Linked DNA regions of Homo sapiens: regions 1 and 2 are each linked to region 3. Evidence: fine-mapped expression QTL. A gene starts in region 3. Each other region holds a variant in brackets. All regions are shown on one strand. Distances are between the middles of the regions.

What was found. PIP is the estimated chance that this variant, and not a neighbour inherited with it, causes the effect.
Region 1: its variant is fine-mapped to the expression of WDFY2 in whole blood (INTERVAL, PIP above 0.99).
Region 2: its variant is fine-mapped to the expression of WDFY2 in whole blood (TOPMed, PIP 0.98).

What each region holds. Positions count from the first base shown.
Region 1 is chr13:51,627,992-51,636,174 of GRCh38, reverse strand. All of the region lies in intron 1 of WDFY2 (WD repeat and FYVE domain containing 2), which reads right to left. Among named protein-coding and RNA genes, the nearest start is that of WDFY2, 48 kb to the right of the region's middle. RefSeq lists enhancers at 7,261-7,879, 7,880-8,183. The variant C/T (reference allele first, on the strand shown) is at 4,407.
Region 2 is chr13:51,722,200-51,730,382 of GRCh38, reverse strand. WDFY2 (WD repeat and FYVE domain containing 2) reads right to left here. Exons shown (of 12, transcript NM_052950.4): 6 at 2,593-2,705. It overlaps LOC124903177 (a long non-coding RNA gene), which reads left to right. Exons shown (of 2, transcript XR_007063807.1): 2 at 7,930-8,130. Among named protein-coding and RNA genes, the nearest start is that of DHRS12, 78 kb to the left of the region's middle. The variant C/T (reference allele first, on the strand shown) is at 4,497.
Region 3 is chr13:51,579,423-51,587,605 of GRCh38, reverse strand. It overlaps WDFY2 (WD repeat and FYVE domain containing 2), which reads right to left and starts at 3,144. Exons shown (of 12, transcript NM_052950.4): 1 at 2,782-3,144. The coding sequence starts at 2,918. It also overlaps the pseudogene RNY1P6. RefSeq lists a silencer at 2,924-3,293 and enhancers at 3,434-3,713, 3,372-3,892.

The sequences.
Region 1 (8,183 bases), 49 kb before region 3:
AATGAACAAAACTCAGCAAAAACCAAAATCTTTCAAGAAATATCACCAATTACCTAATGGACGATTGTTGGGGTTCCTGATATATGTAAGGGAAGACAAAATTGTGCACCCAGCATGTTGAAAAAAAAGATGATGAAACTTCCGGTGGGCATTCCTTCCATTAAGAGAGTCAAGCCAGGTTAAAGTGTATGTAGGTGCTTCCATATCTGAGAAGGGAATTACACTTTGGTACTGCCCAGATATAGGGACACCAGAAGAGAAATGGGGAATGAGGGTATGGTTACAGTAAAGCTGCCAGTTTTCCTTCCATTAGTTGAAAAAATTAAATAATAGTAGCAGAAGGACTAATAACATATTGAGCATTCATTATTTTCAGACACATTGTGTTTTATTTGCTTTGTATCATTTAATCCTTACAAAAGTACTACGAGTAAGAGAGATCCTGTTTTCACTTCCCCTTTAGAAGTGAGAAACTGTAGTGTGGAGACCCTCACCTGTCTGTAGTTCCCAAGCCATGGGGAAGAAGAACCAGGAGTTCCTCCCGGGAGTTTGACTCGAAAGCCTAAGCCTTACCATGAGACTATTTCTGAAGCTGTCTGAATGCTCAGAGAGAGGAAGAAATCAGACATGGAGGACAAAAGGTGAAATGCAGGAAGTTTGGTGAAAAGTTTTCACTATTTAGAAAACAGAAGACAGGAAGCCGAAAAAAATGGCTTATAGGCATTTAGAGCACCTTGCACAGTGCATTAGCTAGATCTGGATTTGATCACGTCTAATTTATGCCTCAAGGTACAGAGACAAAATACATGCTGTTCTGTGAAATTCTCTCAATTACGCAAAGCTGCTGTTCTTCACAGCCTGGCATGAAAAATGATGATCACGTCATAATTTCTCTCTCAACTCTTGCCATTTAAAAGGTTTAGGACTTCCTGCCGGGGGTGCAGTAGCTCACGCTGTAATCCCAGGACTTTGGGAGGCCGAGATGGGCAGATCACTGAAGGTCGGGAGCTCAAGACCAGCCTCGCCAACATGGTGAAACCCTGTCTCTACTAAAAATACAAAAAAAAAATTAGCCAGGCGTGGTGGCAGGCACCTGTAATCCCAGCTACTCGGGAGGCTGAGGCAGGAGAATTGCTTGAACCTGGGAGGCAGAGGTTGCAGTGAGCCAAGGTGGTGCCACTGCACTCCAGCCTGGGCAACAGAGAGAGACTCCATCTCAAAAAAATAAAACTAAAAAATTAAAAAATAAGTAAATAAATGTTTAGGGCTTCCTTATGGGGGGACTCTGCATTCTTCCCTTCCCTCTACTCCAACTCTGACCTATGGATAAATCCACTTAACCCAACCATGATGCACCCTATTGTTTTGATCAATAAACAAATGTCTTCACAAAAAAGTCCTCCTTGCTCTACTATAGTTCTTTCCTGGTACTGAATATATGGGGAAAAAAAAAACAAAACAAAAAAAACAGCCTTTTCCAATCTTATAGACATGCACCACCACACCTGGCTAATTTTTGCATTTTTTAGTAGAGACGGGGTTTTGCCATGTTGGTCAGGCTGGTCTCAAACTCCTGACCTCAGGTGATCCACCTACCCTGGCCTCCCAAGGTGCTGGGATTACAGGCGTGAGCCATTGCACCTGGCTGCCTTTTCCAATCTTAGTGCTAACAAGTATTATAAATTTACAAAAGCTTAATTGACTCTTACCTGGATTCATGATATATTTTTAAATCTTTGTGTATTAAAAGGCTAAAGTACTACTTTTCCTTAGGTTTGGTAAATATATATTGAGTATTTATCATGAATCAGGTCTAGTACTAGGAATACAAAGAGGGTAAAAATGGGTTCCTGGCCCTCACAGAACTCACAGAGTAAGATTTTCATCCACTACTTCTGAAAAAAAAAAAACACTTCTAGGGCTTTGCAAGACTACACTATCAGTTCTTGGTTGTTAAAGCCCTGTAATAATTCAAATAACTCTCATAAAGCCAAGCTCAGTTTTAATGACCTGAGAATTATTTAATCTTTACAATGGTCCTCTAAATTGGGATTATCCTCATGTCCATTTTGGAGCTGATGAACTGAGGCAAAAAGAAGTTAAGTAATTTAGGTAAGTAATTAATTTAACCTCTTAGAAATTAATCAAAGGAGCCAGAATTCAAACCCAGGCAACCTGTCTCCAAACATCATGCTCTTAACAACGATTCTCTCCTGTCACTGAAGAAAGACTAAAATAGTGTGGCACTGCACCAGATTAAACAGAATGACCAATGGGAAAGAACTGAAAGCTCAGAAACAGACCAAAGTATATATACTAACTAGCATATTAAAAATTTATTAAAAATCATAGGGGGACAAATGAATTACACAATAAAAGGTGCTGCCCTATTTATTTATTTGGTTCTAAAAACTTCAGGTGGTTTAAAGAATTACCTGTGATGGTCTAGAATCAAGATGATGCATGTGACTCCCTCCCCTCATCACTTCTTGCTAAAATGATCCAACTAATTCAGGAGAAAAAAAGTCTCCACCACTGACTGGCTACTTCATAAGTGACCCATCCACAAAAGTGACCCCTTGAGAAGAGCTAACAGGAATAATTTAGCAAACAGCAGAGTGAGCGGAGAGGCCAATTAGCAGCCAGTTCCCAGAACACCCACAACAAAACTGCTGCCATTCATCAATTATTTAGATCCAGATACCCTACTAAGTGCCTTAAGCCGTTAACAAATTTCAATATTATTATACACACGAGTAAACTGGGGCTCAGAAGTTGAACAAGATGACCAATGTTATACAGTTCTCAAGTAGCACAACCAAGATTGGAACACAAAGGCGATCAGACTCAAGTTTAAACTCTTAATCACTCCACTACACATGGGGTGGCCAAGTCCACCAGGATCCCCACTTCAGAGCCTACTGACAGCTCCAGGGTTGGAGCAGAGGCTGGAGGCCAGGCCAGTGCTGGAGCAGCAGCCATGCTGGTTGGAGTTTCTGCCTGGATGCCTAGGCCAGGCAGCTATTCAGGGGGAAGGGAAACTACCCCAGCGGGCCAGAAGCTGCCAAGGCAGACACAAAAGGAACACTGTTCCTGAACAAAGACAAAGTCTGCCCTGCAGTTGTCTCCCACTGCCTACAGCTTCAACCCTGCCCCACACAAACTATTAGAACTCTAAGCTGCAGATAAAAAAAATCACAGTAAATCTAACGTTTTTCCCTATTTTTGCCTGGAATGAAAAGAACTGAATAATGACCTACACAACCTCTGACAAAGCATATTTCAGTTACCAATAATGAACAAATTAGACCTACTTGGCAGATGAGTGAACAGAGAAGCTAGCAAACTAGACAGGGGAAAGACCCAGTATTTTAGGTGAAGTGAAAATGTTTGAATAATTAGGGTAACTGCTAGAAACAAGACAAGTTTGTACATTTAAAAATTTTTAAGATTGCACATTTTAAAATTTTCTCAGTGAGATTTAAACTTTTTTATCTGTATCATTGATTACAAAAGTTATTATGAAGAGAGATGAAAAAGGAGCAATAGGACATAGCAAATGAAAGTAAAAAGCAAAATGGGTAGCCTAAAGAAGAGATGCACTGAAATGCAGACTGGCTCCTGCATAAAACCAAACGGGAACCTGAAAGACCTGCTCCACGAAATCTCCCAGAAAGCACAAGAAAACAAGGAAAAATGGGAAATTATGACTGAAAAATATAGCACCTGAATGGTAGAAGATCAAATCTGTGTCTAATAGGTATTTCAGAAAGAGAAAACAGAAGAAATAATATTTAAGTAAAGAAAAAGTAATAAATAATGGGAAAAAAAACAGAACTCAAAATGAGTTTTTTAGAATATAATTATTCATTCAGAGCTTGGCAAAATTAATCACAAAAGAACCATGCTCATCCTAGGAGAGCTTTGGAATGTCAGAGAGAAAAAGAGTCCAATAGACATCCGCTCCTCCACCAAGATTAAAAAAATAAAAAGGAACATGAATGAGATGAACACTGGGTTTCTCATCTACCATACTAAGTGTTAAAAGACAATGGAGTAAGATTTATAGGACTCTGAAAAGATAAGTCTATGACACACAAATTCTAAATTTAGATGAATTATCAATACTATAATTATCATTACTATAACATAGAAGAAATACATTAATAAACAGGGGAATCAAAAATATACTTTCCACATACCTTATCTGTAGAAATATTCTTAAGGAAGGGAGGATATATAATCAACTGAAAAAATAGAATAAAAAACTCAAGAAAGTAAAAGATAAATAGAAGTATAAGAGAAACAGCAGTGAGCAATAAAGCTAACAAAGCTAGAGAGGTCTAGGCTGGCCACAGTGGCTCACGCCTGTAATCCCAGCACTTTGGGAGGCTGAGATGGGAGGA[C/T]TGCTTGAGCCCCACAGTTCAAAACCAGCCTGGGCAACATGGCAAGATCCTCGTCTAAATAATGCGTGTCAATGTTGAAATCATAATGCAAATTATGCTTTCAACATTGTAAGTTGAAAGCATGCTTGAAGGAGCATAATGTAAAAAAAATGAACAAATGTTTCTCATTATTTCAACAAAATTTAGACGGTAAGGAGAAGAAAAGAAAATGTGCTGAAGTGATCACATGGCTTAGGAGAACTCCATAGATACTGTTCTAATGATAAACAAGTAAGTTCAAATTTTAATTACCCACAAGAAGAACAAAAATTGGACATATAACTTCCAAGTCACAGAGAATTGTTTTCCTTCTTTTTAAATTTTTTTTTTTTTTTTTTAGAGACAGGATCTTGCTTCATCTCCCAGGCTGCAGTGCGATGACACCATCATGGCTCACTGCTGACTGAAATTCCTGATCTCAAGTGATCCTCCCACCTCAGTCTCTCAAGTAGCTGAGACTACAGGCACAAGCCACCACACCCAGCTGATTTTTACATTTTTTGTAGAGACGGATTTCTCCATCTTGCCCAGGCTGGTCTTGAACTCCTGGGCTCAAGTGATCCTCCCGCCTCGGCCTCCCAAAGTGCTGGGATTACAGGCGTGAGCCACCATGCCCAGCTTGTTTTCTTTCCTTAAAAAACAGAAAAGCTTGCTGGGCATGGTGGCTCACGCCTGTAATCCCAGTACTTTGGGAGGCCGAGATGGGTGGATCACCTGAGGTCAGGAGTTCGAGACTAGCCTGGCCAACATGGTGAAACCCCGTCTGTACTAAAAATACAGAAAATTAGCTGGGCGTGGTGGCACACACCTGTAATCCCAGCTACTTGGGAGGCTGAGGCAGGAGAATCGCTTAAATCCAGGAGGCAGGGGTTGCAGTGACCCGAGATAGCGCCACTGCACTCCAGCCTGGGTGACAAGAGCAAAAAACTCTGTCTCAAAAAAGAGAAACTAAAAAAAAAAAAGAAAAACTTGAAAAAAAAAATTTCAGTGAAAGCTAAACAATCAGCATAATAACTTGAAAACATAACACAAAAAGCCAAGGGTAAGACCAAACATTCAGTAAACGCTAATGGGTTAAATACCCCTATAAAAGAGAAACCCCTCATCAACTGGGTGAAAGAACAAAATACCACCCATCTGACTGGGTTATTAAATGAGGCAATGTGTGCAAAAGTGCCACACGTATAGTTGTTCAAAAAGTATGCATAAAGAAAGAAAGAATGTTGCGGGCACTGTGGTGACCCAAACATAAAAAAAAAAAAAGAAAGAAAGGGAACTCTACCAGTTTAAAACACCAAAAAAATTCACTAAAATAATAATTTTTTAAAGTCTTATGATGAGCTGACAGGAAAATAAAACAAATCATCAGAAAACAAAAACAAAGTATATAGTCTGTGACTCAGAAATTCCACTTACAGAAATCTACTCTACATTCACATGCTATAAAAGTAAGAAATCGTACATGGGAATAAATAAGAAATTTAGGACAGCTTTCTCAGTTTAAGATGATTTGGGCTGCAAATAACAATACCTAACCTCAGTGATTTAAAGAAAACAGGGTCTGACTTAAAACAAAATGACTAGAAGGTAGTTCCAGGTTGATTCAGTAACTCAATGTCTTTAATGGCTAAGGCTCCATATTTCTGCTCTATCACTGTTAATGTGCTGGAGATATTATGTTAAGTGAACATAAGGTTTATAAGACTGTGTATATAAAATGATTTTAACTATACTAAGATCAAAGAAGAAGTAGTTAGGAAACATATTAATGTTTGCTAACATTAGTGGTTGCTCCAAGATTGTGGGATCATGAGTGGTTTCATACCTCCTGCTTCACATACTGTTTTTGTACTTTCAATATTTTTCAGATGTAATACATCTATAAACCAAAAAAAAAAAAAAAGAAAAGAAAGAAAGAAAAGAAAAAAAAATCAAAGAACTAAAGAGAACCGTTACTGAAGAAAACAAAAAGCCTCAATCACCCCTTGGCCACAGTGACATAGCTACTTTCTCCTTGTTTTCCAATTAGAATTATTTCAACTTGATTTGTTTATGAGGTTTTTAAATTCTCCATGACACACACAGTAGTTTTGTATAAAAAGGAAGCTCATGATGTTATTAATGATTATCCTCTATGTAGAGTGCAATGCTTGTACAGAACAGTTCACAGAGTATTTCACACACCTTTATTTCATTTATATTACTGAATACAACCCTTATAAATAAATAGAGAAAACTAAAAAATAGGTAAATAGACCATTTTGTAGTGAGGAACCTCTTCCAAAGTCATATTAAATTGAGAAATTTAAAATCAACCCAAATAACATCCTCTTTTCATATACCATGCTTCATAAACATAATACTAAAACAAACACATGGTTATATCAATTGCCAAAGACTTAAAATTCTTTTAGGTATCTAATTAATACCAGTAACCATCTGCATTCCTAAATCTACTGTAATCTATCTACATGAACGTTTAGAGACCAAAGCAGGCTAGGGAGAAACCCACACTATCCACTTGGTGTGCTTCATGGTCTTCCTCTGTTAGCCTTCCTCACTGGAAGAGAGAGAACAGCTTGAGAGACTTCCCATGTGAGGAGTATCACTTATCCCTTAGTTTCATAGGCATTTTCCAAGACTGTCTTCTCCATAGCTTAAAACTAAAACTCTGGGTCTCAGAATTTCAACTTCAAAGTTGAAGGGGACCTAAGAAATAATCTATTCAAACTCTTCATTTCACACACAAGGAATCTGTCAATGTATAGTTTAAAACCATCAAAATGGATCACAGAAACAGAAAAGTCCCACAGAGCATACAAATATGTCTTCAGAAGAGGTCAAAACCCTGGAAGAATTTAGTCTGCTGCTCAATCTTAAAGTTATGACACTATTTTTTAAATGCTGGTCAATGGGTTTCTAAGGCCCTTTTTAGACACTGCAATTCCACCTGTTAGAAAATTCCATTCAGTTAAACATGACTTGCAGAGTAAAGCAACTAACTGGCATCTGTGATGCATCAAGGGCTCTATTAGCTCATCCTGCCTCTCTTCTTCCGATGGCAGCCGTGGCCATCTGGAGGGACCACTCGGAAGAGGCCGGCTGCAGCAGGGGGGGTGCCGCTAGGGATACTCGCTCTGTGAGGCCAGTGGGAGCAAGGAACAGGCGGAAACCCTGCCCCCTACCGAGTTGGTGGGATGGGAAACCGGTGCTCCTGGGTGTAGCTGCAGCCATCCAGCTGAAGCTCCAGACACGAGCATCCCTGGACTCTCAGGGGCCTGGGAAGCCCTCCTGTCCCCACAGGCTCAAAAAGACCTGCTCCCACGCCCTGGCCTCTCCCACCTCCTGGCGTCCGCTCTGATTTCAGAACAAAGTTGAAGCAAAGCCCAGGCACTGCCGTGACATGGTCGGGTGTGCATGCACATGGGGCAGCACTGCACACCAGCATCCCCCAACACCACCTCGGCCCCCTCTGAAACTTTGGGCACTGAGGAGCTCAGGGAGGGAGCCCAGTGGGGCCTGAGGGGCGGCTCAGCGCAGGACTGCAGGTGCCTCTCAGCACGAACAGCCTGGGTGCCGTGGATGGCATGTTGATGCCAGGACGCAGACAGGTTCCTGGGCAGAAAGGGGTGGGTCCCCAGTGAAACCCCACCTTCAAGACAGGGATGGCCTGAGGTCTGCCAGTTCCAGCTAGAGTCTGGGGCCCAAAACGAGAACTTATGGTGCTTTTTCTGAGCC
Region 2 (8,183 bases), 140 kb before region 3:
GCCAAAGGAAGGCCGTTACAGCCAGAAGGAATGGCCACAATGTAAAATGCTGCTGAAAAGTTAAGTACGACAAGGTTTACAACGTGTCCCAGCAGGCCACTGGTCACCTCGGGGACAGCAGTTTCAGTGGCGTAATAACGACAAACCAGATTGCAGGGAGCTGGAAGGCAAATTGGAAGTGAAAAATATGAAGCAGCTGGGAAAATTATATTCTTTTAAGAAACACGATTGTTTGCTACAACTTGGATGAACCTTGAGGGCATTATGCTGAGTGAAATAAGCCAGTCACAAAAGGACAAATACTGCATGATTCCACTCCTATGAGTCACCTAGACTAGTCAAATTCATAGAAACAGAAAGCAGAGTAACAGTTTCCAGGGACTGGGGGGCCGAGGGGGAGGATGGGGAGTTAATGTCCAAGGGAACAGAGTTTCAGTTTCACAAGATGGAAAAGGTTCTGTGATGGATGGTGATGACTGCACAACAGTGTGAATGTAGTTAATGTCATTGAACAGCACATTTAAAAATGGTTAAAATGGTAAACTTTATGTTTTATACATTTTACCACAATTTTTTAAAAAGAAGCATTGCTATTAAGAGAATAAGAAGGAACTTGCTATAAGACATGGGATTGAGAGGGTGTTGCTTTGTTTTTCTACCAGAGGCAAAAAACATAAGCATATTAATAAATTGAGAAGAATGAGTTAGTCAAAAGAGAGATCAAGGCAATCCATTTTGGCGTGGAGACCCTGCAAATAGACTGGGGCCAGAGGAAAGCAGCTCTCCTGCACTGAGAAGAGAAGAATGGGCTGGAGGAAGACTGCTCTCCTGCACTGAGAAGAGAAGAATGGGCTGGAGGAAGGCAGCTCTCCTGCACTGAGAAGAGGAGAAGTGGGGAGAGAAAAAGTTTGTTTGTTGGGGTGAGGGGGATATACAGTGGGCAAGAAATATGTGGTTTTTTTTTTTTTTTTAAAGCTTCTATTTGATAGCTTTTGAAGGAAGAGGCAAGGAATGAGATGGCGATGGGGGCTTGGGAAGGATGGTGAAGGTCTCTGTTTAGGGGCCTGGGAGAAGGAGTGAACTGAGGACAGGGAGAGGGATTATTAGGCAACTTCATGAGTCTGCACAGGAAATCGTGAGTGTGCAATGGTAATGATGGTCTAAGCCTCAAGGCAGCGTGACTACTGTAGACCCAGCAGCTGGCTGCACAAGAAGAAAAGGTGGAGAGTTAGTCTGAATCAGACAGGCTTGCCAAGAAGGCAGAACATTTACATTCACAGAACTGAGAACGCTGAGAAGCCGTGGGTGAAGCGATGCACCACTGGGAGGAAAGGTGATGCAGGGGAAGAGACGCTGGGAAAATGGAAGGACCGCGGGCTAGAATGCGCCACAAGGGGAAACAGTAAGTGGAATGAAGAAAGGTGTAGGGAATTGGAGGATGAGGAGGCTGAAGTCTGCAGTGACGCACAGAAGTTTAAGACTTCTGAGGTGGGACAGTTCTGGGTCCCCCCCAGAACCCCAGGCCCAGTCTTGGCCAAAGTGTAGGTGAGGGTGTAAGCGGCTAAAAAAGAAATTCAGTCAGGGAAGACCAGGGTCCTATCCATAGGGGATATTTCCATGTGTTCTTCCTCCCAAAGGCATAAATAATTAAGATGATCTTTTATGAATCTTCTTCCTTGGATTCAATTTTTTCCTTACTATATGTTTCTTATTCTAGCATTCCATTTTTTCCCTTTAGGAAGCCCCTTATGAACCAGGTACTATCCAATTTTACATCCTCTTTCCCCTACTTTTTTTCTTATATGACATCTAAACTCAGTATTCTCCTGTTTTACACAAAATCATGGGTTTGTAGCTGGTAGAAAACGGAAAAGCCCTTTAAGAACCATGAAAACTGGCGATGACTCATTTTCTAGGGTCGATAAGTTCTAGAGTCAATAGTACACGTTAAAACTACTAGTAAAAAATTAATCATTATCATCTATCAAGTCTTTCAAAGGCTAAGCATGAATATTTTATATTACCTTGCTTAAGTGACCCTGAGCAAAGCAAAAACATAAAGGGGACCTTAGGTTTTAACCTGAAAAGGATATGAAGGAAGGAAAGTTGGAGAGGAACTTGACCTTTTTCACAAAGTCTAGCTACTCATGAAGAGTATATCTGTCTTTTCATGTGACTTGGAAGTGGGAATCTTTCTTGTACACCATCTTCTAACTCCAGGAAGGGCAAGGTCAGACCGAGGCAGCTGTCTTTTTGGCCTTCTGGGGTTTGAGCCGTCCGAGGCCACATGGTCTCAAACAATGCCTCATTAATGTATGCCAACACTGGCTTTCTCTGGTGCAGTATGACAGAGAACCAAATTATCAACATTTTCAAAATAGATTGGTTTCTCTTTTGTTTGGATTATACAGAAAAACGTTTGATGTTATATCTTACTGAACCATTTTGAAATGAGTTAAGCATATCATGTGTATCTTTGCACAAGCATGGATTGTACTTTGCCACTTTCAAAACATATCTGAACATCAGGAGATGCAGCAGGCGATATCTCACTGTGCTATCAGCACATGACGATTTTACTGTTAATCCTACCTGTGTGTCCTCTGAATGTTGTGACCAGGGTGCAGTTTTCTTGCTCCAGTTTGAGGATTGTTACTTGGCCTGAGTGGTCACCGATAAACACATGCCGGGTTTCAACATCAAATCTGTCATGAAAGCATTAAGGATTGTTTCTCAAAATTAAATGAGGGAATTTACAATGAAAAAACAGGGCATAAATGTAACAAGAAATACGCAAATCCCATCTGAGGAAAATGTGAAGACAGTGCTGAAAGACACAAAAGTGAACTTAACTAAATGAAGGACATACTGTATTATTGGACAGTAAGACTTAAAACTTAAAGATGTCACTTCTTGCTCCTAAATTAATAAAATAAATCTATATATTTAAAAAATATCAACACATGTTGTTTTCTATAGCCAGAAGTGTTCATATGGAAAAATAAATAAGCAAAAAGAGCCAAGAATACTCTGAAAATAAGAACAATATGGTATGTGATAGGGAGGTTAGCCCTACCAGATATTAAAAAATGTTATAAAGTTTCTTTAATTAAAAGTGTAGTATTGGTGCATAAATAGACTAACAGAACAGAATACAAAGTCGAGAAATAAACCCAAAAGCACAATGAAATTTAGTAAATGTCTGATGAAGGTAGCTTTTCAAATGAATAAGGAAAAGATGAATTTAAAAAAATGATGTTGGCACAAACTGGATAGCCATTTGGAAAAAGAAAATAGAATCTGTATTTCACAATGTATACTGGGACAGATTCCAAATGAATTAGGGATCTAAATGTAGAAAATGAAAACATAAGCTTTAGATAGGAAAGTTTCTTTGTAACCTTGGAGTGGGAAAAGCTATGACTCAAAAACACAACAAATATTATGAGCAAAGCCAAAAGATAAACTGGAAAAAAATATTTGCAATTTATGTCACAAAGGGCCCAAATCTCTAATATAAAAAGAGCAATCAAGAAGAAAAGGATCCCAAACCTAATAGAAAAATGGGCAAAATTTGAATGGAACTATTAATAGATAGTTCAAGAAGAAATCAAAATGGTGCTGTGAAAAAAGAGTTAACACAGCAGCTCTGACTGTGATCCTCTGAAAGTCGGCTTACGAAGTTGGCATAGTGTCTGGGAATTTGGATTTTGGGAAGGTTCCCACCATTAACTGATAAGAGTGGCTCACTGTGCCTTAACTGTTCAAATAATGTGGCTTACACTGAATACCTGCTTTCCTTCTGGGAATCTGGAATTTTGGAATGTCCCAGGTAGATCTGCCTACGTGACCAGTAAAAGCCCTAGGCATGGAGTCTCTAACAAGCTTCTCTGGTTGACAAAGCCTAGCAACCCTATTTCTAAAGATCCACCCAGAGACACACAGGCAAAAATACAGAATGACACATGCCCAAGGCTAGTCACTCCATGTTATTTTAATAGCTAAAGTTTGAAAATAACCCAAACGTCTATCAATAAGGGACTTACTGAATTAACTATGCTACATCCACACAATAGAATATTATGCAGCTGGGGTAAAAATGGAGATCTTTATACACAGACACCAGGATATATTATCAAGTGTGTGTGGAGGGGGCAGCCAACGCATATGAGAGTTTATAAGCTATACTACCTTTGTGTAAGAAACAGAGAGAAATACAAATGTGTATGTATGTGTGTGCATGTGCATGTATGCACTCATATTTAGAAAGGGAAGCACTAGAGGGATTAAGATCTAACAAAAGTGGCAAGGTCAGGGGACAGTGATGGCAGTGAGACTTCTCCCTTGTCATAGTTCCTATTTTAGAATTTTGTAAAATCTTTACATATTAAAAGGTACAAAAATTTGTGGCCAGGCACAGTGGCTCATGCCTGTAATCCCAGCACTTTGGGAGGCCAAGGAGGGAGGATCACTTGAGCCTGGGCAACAAAGTGAGA[C/T]CTCATCTCTACAAAAACTAAAATAATTAGTTGAGCATGGTGGCACATGCCTGTGGTTCCAGCTACATGGGAGGCTGACACAGGAGGATTGCTTGAGTCCAGGAAATTGAAGCTGCAGTGAGCCATGTTCAAGCCGCTGCACTCCAGCCTGGGTGACACAGTGAGACCCTGTCTTAAAAAAAAAAAAAAAATTGTGTATATATAGATATATACACACACACACACATATGTATATACATACACATATATATCTCAAAAAATCCCCCAAATTGAAAACAAAGTAAAATGAATGAACCTATCAAATTGGTGACATAATCACATAATTAGAACAATTTCGAGTGCCTTTAAAACACAACATTTTCAATGTTTCAATGTCTCACTTTGTTGCCCAGGCTGGTCTCAAACTCCTAGGCTCAAGTGATCCTTCCACCTTGGCCTCCCAAAATGCTGGGATTACAGGTGTGAGCCACCATGCCTGAGCAAAAATTTTATGTATTTTTAATATGTAAAAATATTACAGGATTCCAAATGGGAACTATGACAAGGGGGAAGTCTCGCCCCCATCACTGGTAGAATATATTCTAAGGACAAAGAGAGTTGCAAAGAAATCTAAAATCTCATTCAGTAGTCTTATTGTTATTTAGTATTGCTCATTATTTTGGAACCATTTAAATAAACCGTAGGATAAACCAAATGAGGAACTATGCCAATGTTTTAACAACCAAGATTTTCAGCCGAAGATAAAAGAATCAAGTGCAAAAACCAAAAAGTAAAAATCCCATAATGTTAAATTTGAATAAGAAATATTATATGAACTTATGATTTATTCTCTTTTAAAAAATACACACACATTTATATATACTTCTTAGCTATCTCTGAATATTGTTCCTCACTAAAAAAATGGCTGATTCCAGGATTGGGACAGGAAAAGTACAAGATGAACTTGAGACATGTTGAGTCAGAAGGCAAGGAAGCTACTGAAGGCTAAGTGGGCTTATTTCAGACACAGTGATAAGGGATGAACTGGTAGAGCACAGAGGCTATTTAGAGCAGTGAAACTATTCCATATGATGCTACAATGGCAGATACATGTCTTTATATACTTGTCCAAATCCATAGAATGTACAACACCAAGAGTGAACCCTAAACTATGGACTTCAGGTGATAGTGACGTGCCAATGTAGGTTCACTGATTGTTAACAAGCATACCACTCTGGCGGGGGATGCTGGTAATGGGGAGGCCATGCATGTGGAGGTCATGAGGTGCACAGGCAATCTCTATACTTTCTGCTCAATTTTGCTGTGCACCTAAAATTGCTCTAAAAAATAATCTTTAAAAAATAAAAATTGGGCTGGGTGCGATGGCTCACGCCTGTAATCCCAGCACTCTGGGAGGCCGAGGCGGTCGGATCACGAGGTCAGGAGTTCGAGACCAGCCTGGCCAACATAGTGAAACCCTGTCTCTACTAAAAATACAAAAAATTAGCTGGGCGCGGTGGTCAGTGCCTGTAATTTCAGCTACCCGGGAGGCTGAGGCAGGAGAATCGCTTGAATCCAGGAGGCAGAGGTTGCAGTGAGCTGAGATAGTGCCATTGCACTCCAGCCTGGATGGCAAGAGTGAAACGCCATCTCAAAAAAAAAAAAAAAAAAAAAAAGTTAAAAAAGACATTGGAGCCCATTTAATGGAGCTATTACTGGCCAAAAATAGGATAATTTGAACATAAAATAAAAAGATGGCAGTTTATTGATATATACTGAACATATTATTATTTAAAAACAACCAACCAACCTAAGATTTCATAATAGTGCTCAAAAAGAAAAAAAAAAGATTCCTATTAAAGGTGAGCAGGGCACCAAATCTGTACTCTGAAAATTAGGAACTAAAAAGACAGATATAAGAATTTATCTTGCTTTTCCTATAATAATTGTATTTCAGGGTAACCAAATAGCCCTAGCTAATGAGGCAGGGGAAGTTATCCTTTAGGATTCCAACAAATACATGGGAAAAATATGATAGGATTAGAAAATCACCATTTAGCAACCTTAACGAAAAAGTGTTCAGGCAAAGCTCAGCAACGGATGAAACTATTAAAAGGCTGGTATGGAGGACGGCGCTGCAGGGATCTGGCTGTCACCACCCGAACTGCCAATCAATCTCAGCATAACTGAAAGGGCGACAATCCAATGCCATGTGCCTTATAATGGGAAGCTCTATGAAGCACACTTGGTGAGAACCAAATGCTCTCACTAAAAGGCTGAATCTGAATGAAATCAAGATTATAGGGGCAGTTTTTCAGTTTACTGAAAATATGTGAGGAGAGTAGGTAAAGGAGCAAGTTAAATGACATCAATTTAGAATATGGGACTGTGTGCAGGAGAACTGATTCAGTACCTTCAACAAGGCGGTGGCATTAAAAAAAAGTGAAGGGGGCACTGCTCTGGATGAAGAAAGATTTAGAAGACGTGACAACCACATGCAATGTGTGGATCTTGTCTAGATCGAATTTCAAACAAATCCACTGCACAAAAGCCATTTTCAAAATAAGCAGTGAAATCTGAAATTCAACAATATCAAGGAGATCAAAGAGTGATTGTTAATTTTTAGATGTAACAATAGCATTGTGATTACTGAAAAAGTAACCCATATATTTTCAATGAAGTATATAAGGATAAAATGATATAAGGTCTAGAATTTGCTTTAAAATACTCCAGCAAAAATTGAGAGAAAGCAAAAAGGGATAGAAGAATCAACAGTGGATGTGAATGACTGGCATTAAGTATGATAGGAAGAAATTGACATAATCTTAACAGCTTTTCAGAACTCTTTACCTGAACAGAAATAAATCTAAGAGATTACATTAGGTGGGAAACATTCCACTACACAGGGTGACATTGTGGAAATATCTCTGACATGAACAAAATCCTAAAATAGAATATTTGAATTATTTTTGTGAAAACAGGAAAAATATTATCAAAACATGGTCAAATAACAAGACACTGACAAATGACGCTGGATAAAGTATTCACAAATTTAAAGACTAACAAGTGAAGTGGGGAAGGAACACATTTCTATTTACTATCATCTACCTGCCATGGGGTCTTTGGGAAATAACCCCATTCTGCTGTACCCAGTTGTGCAGAGGGCTGGCTGAAAAATTACAATCCCCCAATTCTAATGCTGGTTCTGCCGGCTAACAGTTACGTGACCTTGAGCAAGTCACCTACTCCCTGAGCCTTGGTTTCTACACTGTGAAAACAGAGAATTAGGTCTTTTGTTTTTACTTCACATTATTGTTTTGACAGTGAACAAAGTAATGTGTAAAAGACTGAAAATCTAAGACATTTTCAGGGCCTGCAAATCTGAGATTTTTTTCTTTTCCCTTTTCCTTTTCTCTCCTTCTTATTATTGTCATTCTTGTTGTTCCTATTACAGGTCATTTATATTTGAAGCTTCAGATCTTCGGTCAAAACAATCAAAGAATTTGAAGTTATTCATAAATTGATAATTCAATTTATGAACCAGTCTCTTTGTCTTCCTTTACTTTTCTACTTGAATTTTGGTTATTTTCATTGCATATTTACTTCTCCACTAAGACGCCTGAAAGAAGAGGAATAAAGGCTGAATTCAATCTGATTTAGTCTGTCACTTGTTGCCTTGGCTGAATGACTGTTTGAGGTGGAGATAGA
Region 3 (8,183 bases):
GGAATAAATGAAGCAATTCATGGACTTTCAGAGTTTTGAAGTACTTTAAAGTCCACCTAGTCCAGTACTTTTCCTACAAGTGTATACTTGTCCACATAAGCCTTTCATAGGTCATCATATAATTCACTCAACAAATATCAACTAAAAGTCTACAGTAGTTAAGATGCTGTGCTTTCAGGAACAGCAAAAAAACAGATCAGTCACTGATACAACAAACGTGTATTGAGGACGTATTGCATGCCAGGTACCATGTTAGGCCCTAATGATGATACAATGAATAAGACACACAAAGCTCCATAGGGAACTCACAGAAGAGAAAATAAAATGGACATGAAGTATATACTGTATAACACCGTTTAAAATGGAAAATGTTAAGTGTTTTCAAAGGCACACATAAAGGCAATGAAGAAGTCAAAGGTCAAAAAGATAAACCAGGGTTTCATTAAGAATTTATGGAACACTGCCATTCAGGTATGGAACATTACTTGCGGCTTTAACCTCAGAGTTCAGGAATGAAGATTACTAGTTTCTAGCTAAAGCAGTGAATGGTAATGGCTTTGTAGGTTGTGATGAAAATCAATATTACATTTTCATATATTTAGCATTGTACCAAGTGACATTAACATTGAATTTTGGAAAGCAAGAATATAGATCAATTATTTTAATGAAAACCATAACCAAAACTGAGCTCTAAATAACAAAGTTATGTTCATGTTTGAGTATATGACCCAAAGAAGCACAGACTTGTCAACTTGAAAAAAAGTATATTAATAATAATTCCAGACTTATGGGTGAACCTTATTTAACAGTAACTCCATGACAAAATAATTTCTATTATTTACATTGTACACTAGGAAAGTGAAAATTAGGCTAAGACATAGCTGAACATTGCATTTCTTTCATCCTATAATCAAATGAAATTTATTCTTCAGTTTCATTAATATACACTACTTCAGCGTCTCCAAACACTTGAAAATATACCCCAGTAAAGCTGTTTCCTTCAAGGTAAATGTGGTGAAATGGGAATCAGAAGTTTCAATACTATAATAACACCTTAATATTAAAGGAGCTTAGGATGGTCTGAAGGTAGTTTTATTATCTCAATTGTTCACAGTCAGTTACAGATTGAACTCCTTGTTCTACTCTCTTCCCCTTCTCACTACCGTACTTAACTAGTCTTAAAAAAATAAATAAAATATTAAAGCAGCTTAGGTTTAACTACCCTTCTCCTTTTCTTGATTCCATGAATTTGCTTATGAATTTTCCACAGCAGTTAGAAATTGATCAGTTCCATCTCCAGTAGTTACAGACTGGGAAAGTGACATCTACCAATATATTCCTTCAATATATTTTATGGAATATATCCCATAAAAACAATACTGTGCCAAAGAATTTCTAGGTCCAGAAGCAGTCTTTTTAATAAAATTTTGCCTTTATGGAAAAAATCAAACTTTCTCATAAGGCTTCTCTGTGAATTTCAAAAGGGTCCTACATCCATGTACTCCATTTCAGCCATGAATTTCTTCTGTTCATTGCAGAATGCTTGCCACTGGTGTATGTTTACAATGTTTTCCATTGGATCTGCACAGGAAATTAATCAGGCGCCATTTGTATTGAGCATGATGTAGACAAGAACATGTCATTAATATACTCATCCTAGTTATACTGAAGAACCTAAGACATGAACAAACCTATCGAGCTCAATTGTTGAGGCCACACACTATGCTAAGTGCGGAAATGACTATAAAGACAGCAATGAGCACTTTGTTGCTCAGCCTCTCAATTTTGAGTCACCAAGAAAGGATACTTTACCTCTGCATGATTTGAACTTATATTAAGAAAACCTACTTACTGTAAAATCCCCGTGTTATGTACCTCTACAGTGTTCTTTTGTAAGAATGCTTATATAGATTTTACCAAAGAAACAATTTCAGATAAATTATCATAATACTATCTTCAAGCAACATTACTCTAGAAATTAGCTTCATCAGCTTTATTCCTGCATATTCAAGGAAATTCAGTTAAAGCGAAAACGCAAAACAGAGAGAGTATTTGAAGGCAGAACAACTAGTTCCACTTCTGCATATTAAGCAAAATTAAGCAAAAATAAAGGAAACAGGCAAAGGGAAGGAACTCAAGAGCTATTTGCAGCAGTGATCCGTTACAAGTTCTACGCGCTTCTCCTCGAGCTCCAAGAGATAAGGAGGGGAAAGGAAAGAAGGCACCACGCAGAAGCCTAAACTTACTCTTGGTACAACTTAGAATATTCACTGAATTCAGCCTAAGATGTCTGGGTTATCTGGATTCAGTAGGAATGTCTGGGAAGAAGGAGTGGCATTTGCTTTCTCCGTTTGAAACCCTGGGAGCTGTACGAGAGTACCCCAAACCCCTTGGTTATCTTGCAGAGGCGGCTCAGGGCATCGTTCCCCAAGCACACACCTGCAAAGCCGGGCGGCTCCTCCCCTCTTTCCCTCCTGTCCTCAGGGATGGACCAAAGTCCCTCCAGCGCACCGTTAGCCCGAGGGCCACCCGGCTCCCGCAGGCACTACCCAGCCCGGGGTGAAGCCGGAGCGCTCGCCGCCGTCCCGGCTCCGCTTCCCGGAGCCACACAGCGGAGGCGGCGCGCAGCTGAACACCGGCACCACCAGGATGCGCATTACAATAAAACTTGGGGGAGCAAGTCTACACTCGCGCCGACGTGAAGGCACAGCCCCTGACGCGGGCTCGAGGGCCGTCGGCCCGTCCCGCCCCTCCTCGCGGCCGAATGGCAGTAGTCCATACCTGTCCTCGGAGACGCTGATGACGCCCTCCTCTTTGGGCACGATCACGGCCATATTCACCACCTCCTGGGACCCCTCCATCCGCTGCAGCAGGATCGGCTTGCGGGTCAGAGGCTTGGGCTGGATCTCCGCCGCCATCGGAGGAGGGGGCGCGCCTGGGGCGCCGCCGCCAACCGCGCCGCGGGGCCGGGCTGAGGAGACTGCTGGAGCACGGACACAGGTTGAGACAGAGACTCTGGCTGGCCGGAGCGGAACGCCGGAAACCGGCGAGCATAGCCTGGCCGCCTCTCTCGGGAACGACTCCGCGCTCCCTGCTTCAGGCACCAAAACCGCCACGACCTGGGATGCAAGCCGGCGCCACTACAAGAGGAGGGGGCGGAGCGCCGGGGGGCGGAGCCTGTGTGGGCGGGGCCTGCCGCAGGGGGTAGCCGCTGGTGGGCGCGAGGGCGGCTCCACTTCCGGGAGGGTGGTGAAGGAGGAGGGGAAACCTGGAGCAGGAGGCGGGGATCTGGTATCCCAATGCGCGTGCGTCAGTCCCGCAAGCCCATTTTCACCCCTCCCCTCCGCGACTCCCCGGGCGCTGCAGCACCACTAGGACGCATGCGCTTTCCGTTCCTCGCGGTCTTCTCTCTGCCTTACACACCCAAGGGTTAGGCTCCTCCCTCTTTAACCTCCCGTGAACGCGCGTATACACACCCCTGGGGACGCGCTTGCCAGACGCCACGCCCCTTCGAAATTCCCTGAAAAGAGGGCGGAGGTGGGGCGGGGAAAGGAGCGCCTCAGCAAGACCGGAAAGAGAAGAGGCCTGCAGGAAGGAAAGCCGCCCAACTCGTTGGGACGTGACTTGGCATGCGCGCGGGCTACCTGGCCTAGCGGTCTTAACAATGAAGCGCGGCGGGAGGCCGCTTACTGCTCCCAACATGCACCAGGCCCAGGCTGCCGGAGGGAACCCAGTGGCCTCCTGGGAGTCGTAGTTTCTTGGAGCCTCCGCCCCCTTGTCCTGGAATGACCTATCGCCCACTTTCTGCGCTATGGGCCTGAGGAGCTCAGCGGCCTCCAGGGCCATTGGCCAAGTCAGGACCCAGACTTGCCTCTATGGGAACTGAGGGGCAGCCCCCAGCTGAGTAGGACGTCACCACTCCTAGGGTCAGACTGATGCTCGGAATAGTGGCACGGAAGGGACATGAAAAGGAGAGAATCTTTCATACAGACATCTTCAAGGGAGCTCAGAGAACATATGGGGTGTCTATCCCCTCGTTTTCTTAGATGGCTAAATTACACAGCCAAGGTTACTTTAGTGCAAAGTTAGGGCTAAACAACCCCTCCTTCCCTCCAGACTTGAACCCAGGCCCCTAGTGCTGGCTTCTTTCCATTTCCCCAGCAATCCAGCCTTTTTAGCTTGCTCCAGACACAACGGACAGAGTTACTGTAGTTACTGACTGAATGTTAGGTGCCTACCAGAAGGCCTGGCATGTGGGGTTGATCGTGAAGACTAAGCTCTGCTTTTTTATCTTGCCCAAATTCCTATCTAAGGGGTCTGGGGAGTCATGGCCTACAAAAACCATAAATTCTCATCAGATGGGTTTTGACCATGTAGGTCATGACTTACTTTCCAGTCTGACTCTGGCGTAACAAGGAAGAAAATCAAAATGTTTTACCCCAAATTATATTTCCTTGCCATGCCTTAAAATTGCCCTGCAAAGTCTCTTGTGGGAAAAATCCACATTCTATATCCCCTTTCCCCTTTGTTTTCCTTCCTTCCTTCCTACACCCAGGAGATAACCAACTAAGAGCCAGGCACCGTTTTAGGTCTGGTAAGGAACATTTTACAACCTGCTGTCTCTAAAGGCTGCTATCTAAAAGATTCCTCTGCACAATAAAACCTGGTCTCCACAATCCTTTACCTTAACCTGAACATTCCTTTCCGTTGATCCCAGGTCTTCAGATAAACTCAACCAATTGTCAACCAAAAAACGTTTAAATTTACCTATAGCCTTGAAGCCCCCGCTTTAAGTGGTCCCACTTTTCTGAACCAAACCAATGTATTTCTTAAATGTATTTGATTGATGTCTCATGCCTTCTTAAGATATATAAAACTCAGCTGTACCCCGACCACCTTGGGCACATGTTCTCAGGACCTCCTAAGGGCTATGTCACGGGCCACGGTCACTCATATTTGGCTCAGAATAAATCTCTTAAAATATTTTACAAAGTTTAATTCTTTTCATCAATAGTCGTTATGTGATAACCTCCACTGAACAATCCCAGAATTAAGTTAGCCGAAGAGTAGTAATGGTCTAGGTGGTGTGATTGAGTTGCAGGGCTCTGAAAGTGAGAGAAATAATGCCAAAGCTGGGAAAAGAAAGGGACAGGCCTTGTGGAAATGTATTTCTAAGGTAGGTGTTTGGTAGCCAAGGATCTCACAGATCACTAGAGACATAAGAGAACAGGTGCAAAGAACTTGTCTCAAAGCACGCAAGGCAACTCTTTACCACCTCCCATTTTGCAGAAATTCTGTAAGCACCTTGAAATAGGATTGAGGTATTTTCCAGCTGTAGGACCTACTGCAGGCATTTCACTTCTCTGAGTCTCAGGTTCCACATCTATTTAAATAGGGCATAACACCTACATCAGGTGGTTCTGGTGGCAATTACAGTTATGACCCAGATAACTTCCCCCATCCCCTTAAAGTTACAAAGGAGGTAGCACTGGCTGCTCCCACCCCAGGCTTTATGGGAATTAGAACCTGAATAGCATTACCATAACCCTGAGTCTGACCCTCAATTCCAAAGAGCCAGAATCTCTGTCTTGTCAATCATTCAAGAAATATTTAATAACTACTAGTGATAGGCAGGGGGAACACAGATTTGAATGCAAACCTCTCAATTCTCAAGAATCTCACAGATCACTAGAGACAGATAAAAGAACGGGTCATGACAGGGAAGTGATGATGGCAAGAGTTATAATAGGGGACTCAGGAAGCTGAGGTAACACAGGAGAAATGCCTAACAGGACCTGCAGTGGAGAGGGTTGGGCAGGAAAAGCTGCATAGAGGAGGTAGAGGCTAGACAGAGTCTTGAAGGGTGAGCAGGTGCAGTCTGGTTACATGAGCTCAAAGAGTATTCGGGAGAGGGGTGAGTAAAGTGGGGGCAGTCCTTGCATGCTTGTTAGGGAAGTGAAAGGCTTATGAAGAGAGAGGTGAAGGTGAGGACATTACAGGGGCTGAGTTTGGACCATGGCCTGATGCCCCTTGTTCTTGGTTGGAAGAGATGCACCCTGGGCACCTGCCACATCATCCTCAGGTGGGATGGGTACTCAAACTATCAATTACTATCAATGTGACAGCTGCTACAATGAAAGTGCTGTGAAGTGCAGTGAGAACTGGAAACCCTGACCTGTGTCTGGCTGTTAAATCAGGGAAAGTTTTCTGGAGCAGAAAGAGCTCATCTGGAGTTTGGAACTAGTAAATCCAGACAGAGGAAACAGCATGTGCAAGAGGTGAGAAGTTGAGAGAATTGCCTCATCTCTTCTGGGAACCTCTAGTAGCTGGAGGGCAAAGTTTGAGGAGGGAGGAAGGTCAAGATATTGGGCTGGAAATATGGACAGGTGTGGACAAGCTCCTTGTTTAGGAGCTTGAGTTTTAACCTTCATGTGATGGAGAACTGCTGTGTCCTCAGAGCACGTCTCTGCTGTGACCAGCACAAGTTCAAGCTCCTGGAATGATACAAGAGACATCTACTGCTCTTGGAGGTCATCGTTGGAAGGGGAAAAGGAAGACAGCTAGTGAATGTAGAAATTCACTGTGAGCCACATACTCCAGCACTCTATCCTCGTAATTGTGTAATTACAATTGTATTATAATTGTCAGAACCCTTGGTTGCAGGTAACAAAAACACAACTGGCTAAAAAAAGAAAGGCATAGGTTATTATTGGCTTATGCCATAGAAAGTCAGAGAGGCAAATTGCCTTTCTTGCAGTCACACAGTTATAACAGATGACAGCGGTTACATACACTCAAGTCTGTCTGTCTCTCTTGCCTCCAGGTTCATTTATTCAAATATTCCCACCCCATTGATTATTTGGCTTCCTAGGAGACTTCTGATTCACTGACCATCACACTTTTCACTGTCCAATGTAGTCATAAGATTACATGTTATTATATGTAATGAGCTAAAACCAGTGCCTGCCACCCAGTAACCACCATGTAGGGTTTGCCATTATATTATGATTATCCATTATCCCCTTCATGTTCTCACTTCCCTCCTTTCACTACTTAACTCCCATTGTCCATTATCCTAACAGTCTCTTGCAAACACCCATGGCATCCTTGCCTCTCTCTCATTCTTGGCAGGCAAAACTCCAATCCTGACCAATCCAACTTTTCACTTACTTCATATCTGCTTTGAACTTGGCAGATGAAAATTGCACAAACATTCTGATTGGTCTCACTCTAGACTCACAACTGTAGGTCTCTGGTAATTCTCTTTAATTAGAAAGTTGGCCAGGCGCGGTGACTCAGGCCTGTAATCCCAGCACTTTGGAAGGCCGAGGCGGGCGTATCACTTGAGGTTAGGAGTTCGAGACCAGCCTGGCCAACGTGGTGAAACCCCATTTCTACTAAAAATACAAAAATTTGCTGGGCTTGGTTGCGCATGCCTGTAATCCCAGCTACTTGGGAGGCTGAGGCAGGAGAATCGCTTGAACCCAGGAGGCAGAGGTTGCAGTGAACTGAGATCGCACCACTGCACTCCAGCCTGGGTGACAGAGCAAGACTCGTCTCAGAAAAAAAAAAAAAAAAGAAAGTAGACGCAATCAGAAGCTGTCTCATCTTCATGTCATCAGATCTATCAACCTGCCTGCATCTGTATCCGTATTCTTCCATACTCTCTGCCTTTCTTCTGTAACAATGGAAAAAGACTGCTCCCATTCAAGGCCAGCATGAGTAAACCTCTCTTTCCTCATTGAAGATTCCTGCAGTTATTCACTCTCTATGTTGCGCCACTTTTTCCTTCTCTATTGGATCTTTCCCAGTGGAGTATAAACGTGCACTACTCTGTCTCCCATTTTTTAAATAAAGTAAACACAAGACAGGCGTAGTAACTCACGCCTGTAATCCCAGTACATTGGGAGGCTGAAGCAGGTGGATCACTTGAGCCCAGGTGTTCGAGACCAGCTTGGCAACATGAAGAAACTCAGTCTTTTCAAAAAATACAAAAATTAGTGGGCTGTGGTGGCATGCACCTGTGGACCCAGCTACTCAGGAGGCTGAGGTGGGAAGATTGCTTGAACCCTGGAGTCAGAGGTTGCAGTGAGCCAAGATCGTGCCATTGCACTCAGCCTGGGCAACAGAGTGAGACCCCCTGGTCTAAAAAAAAAAATAAATAAATAAACCACAAAACTCTT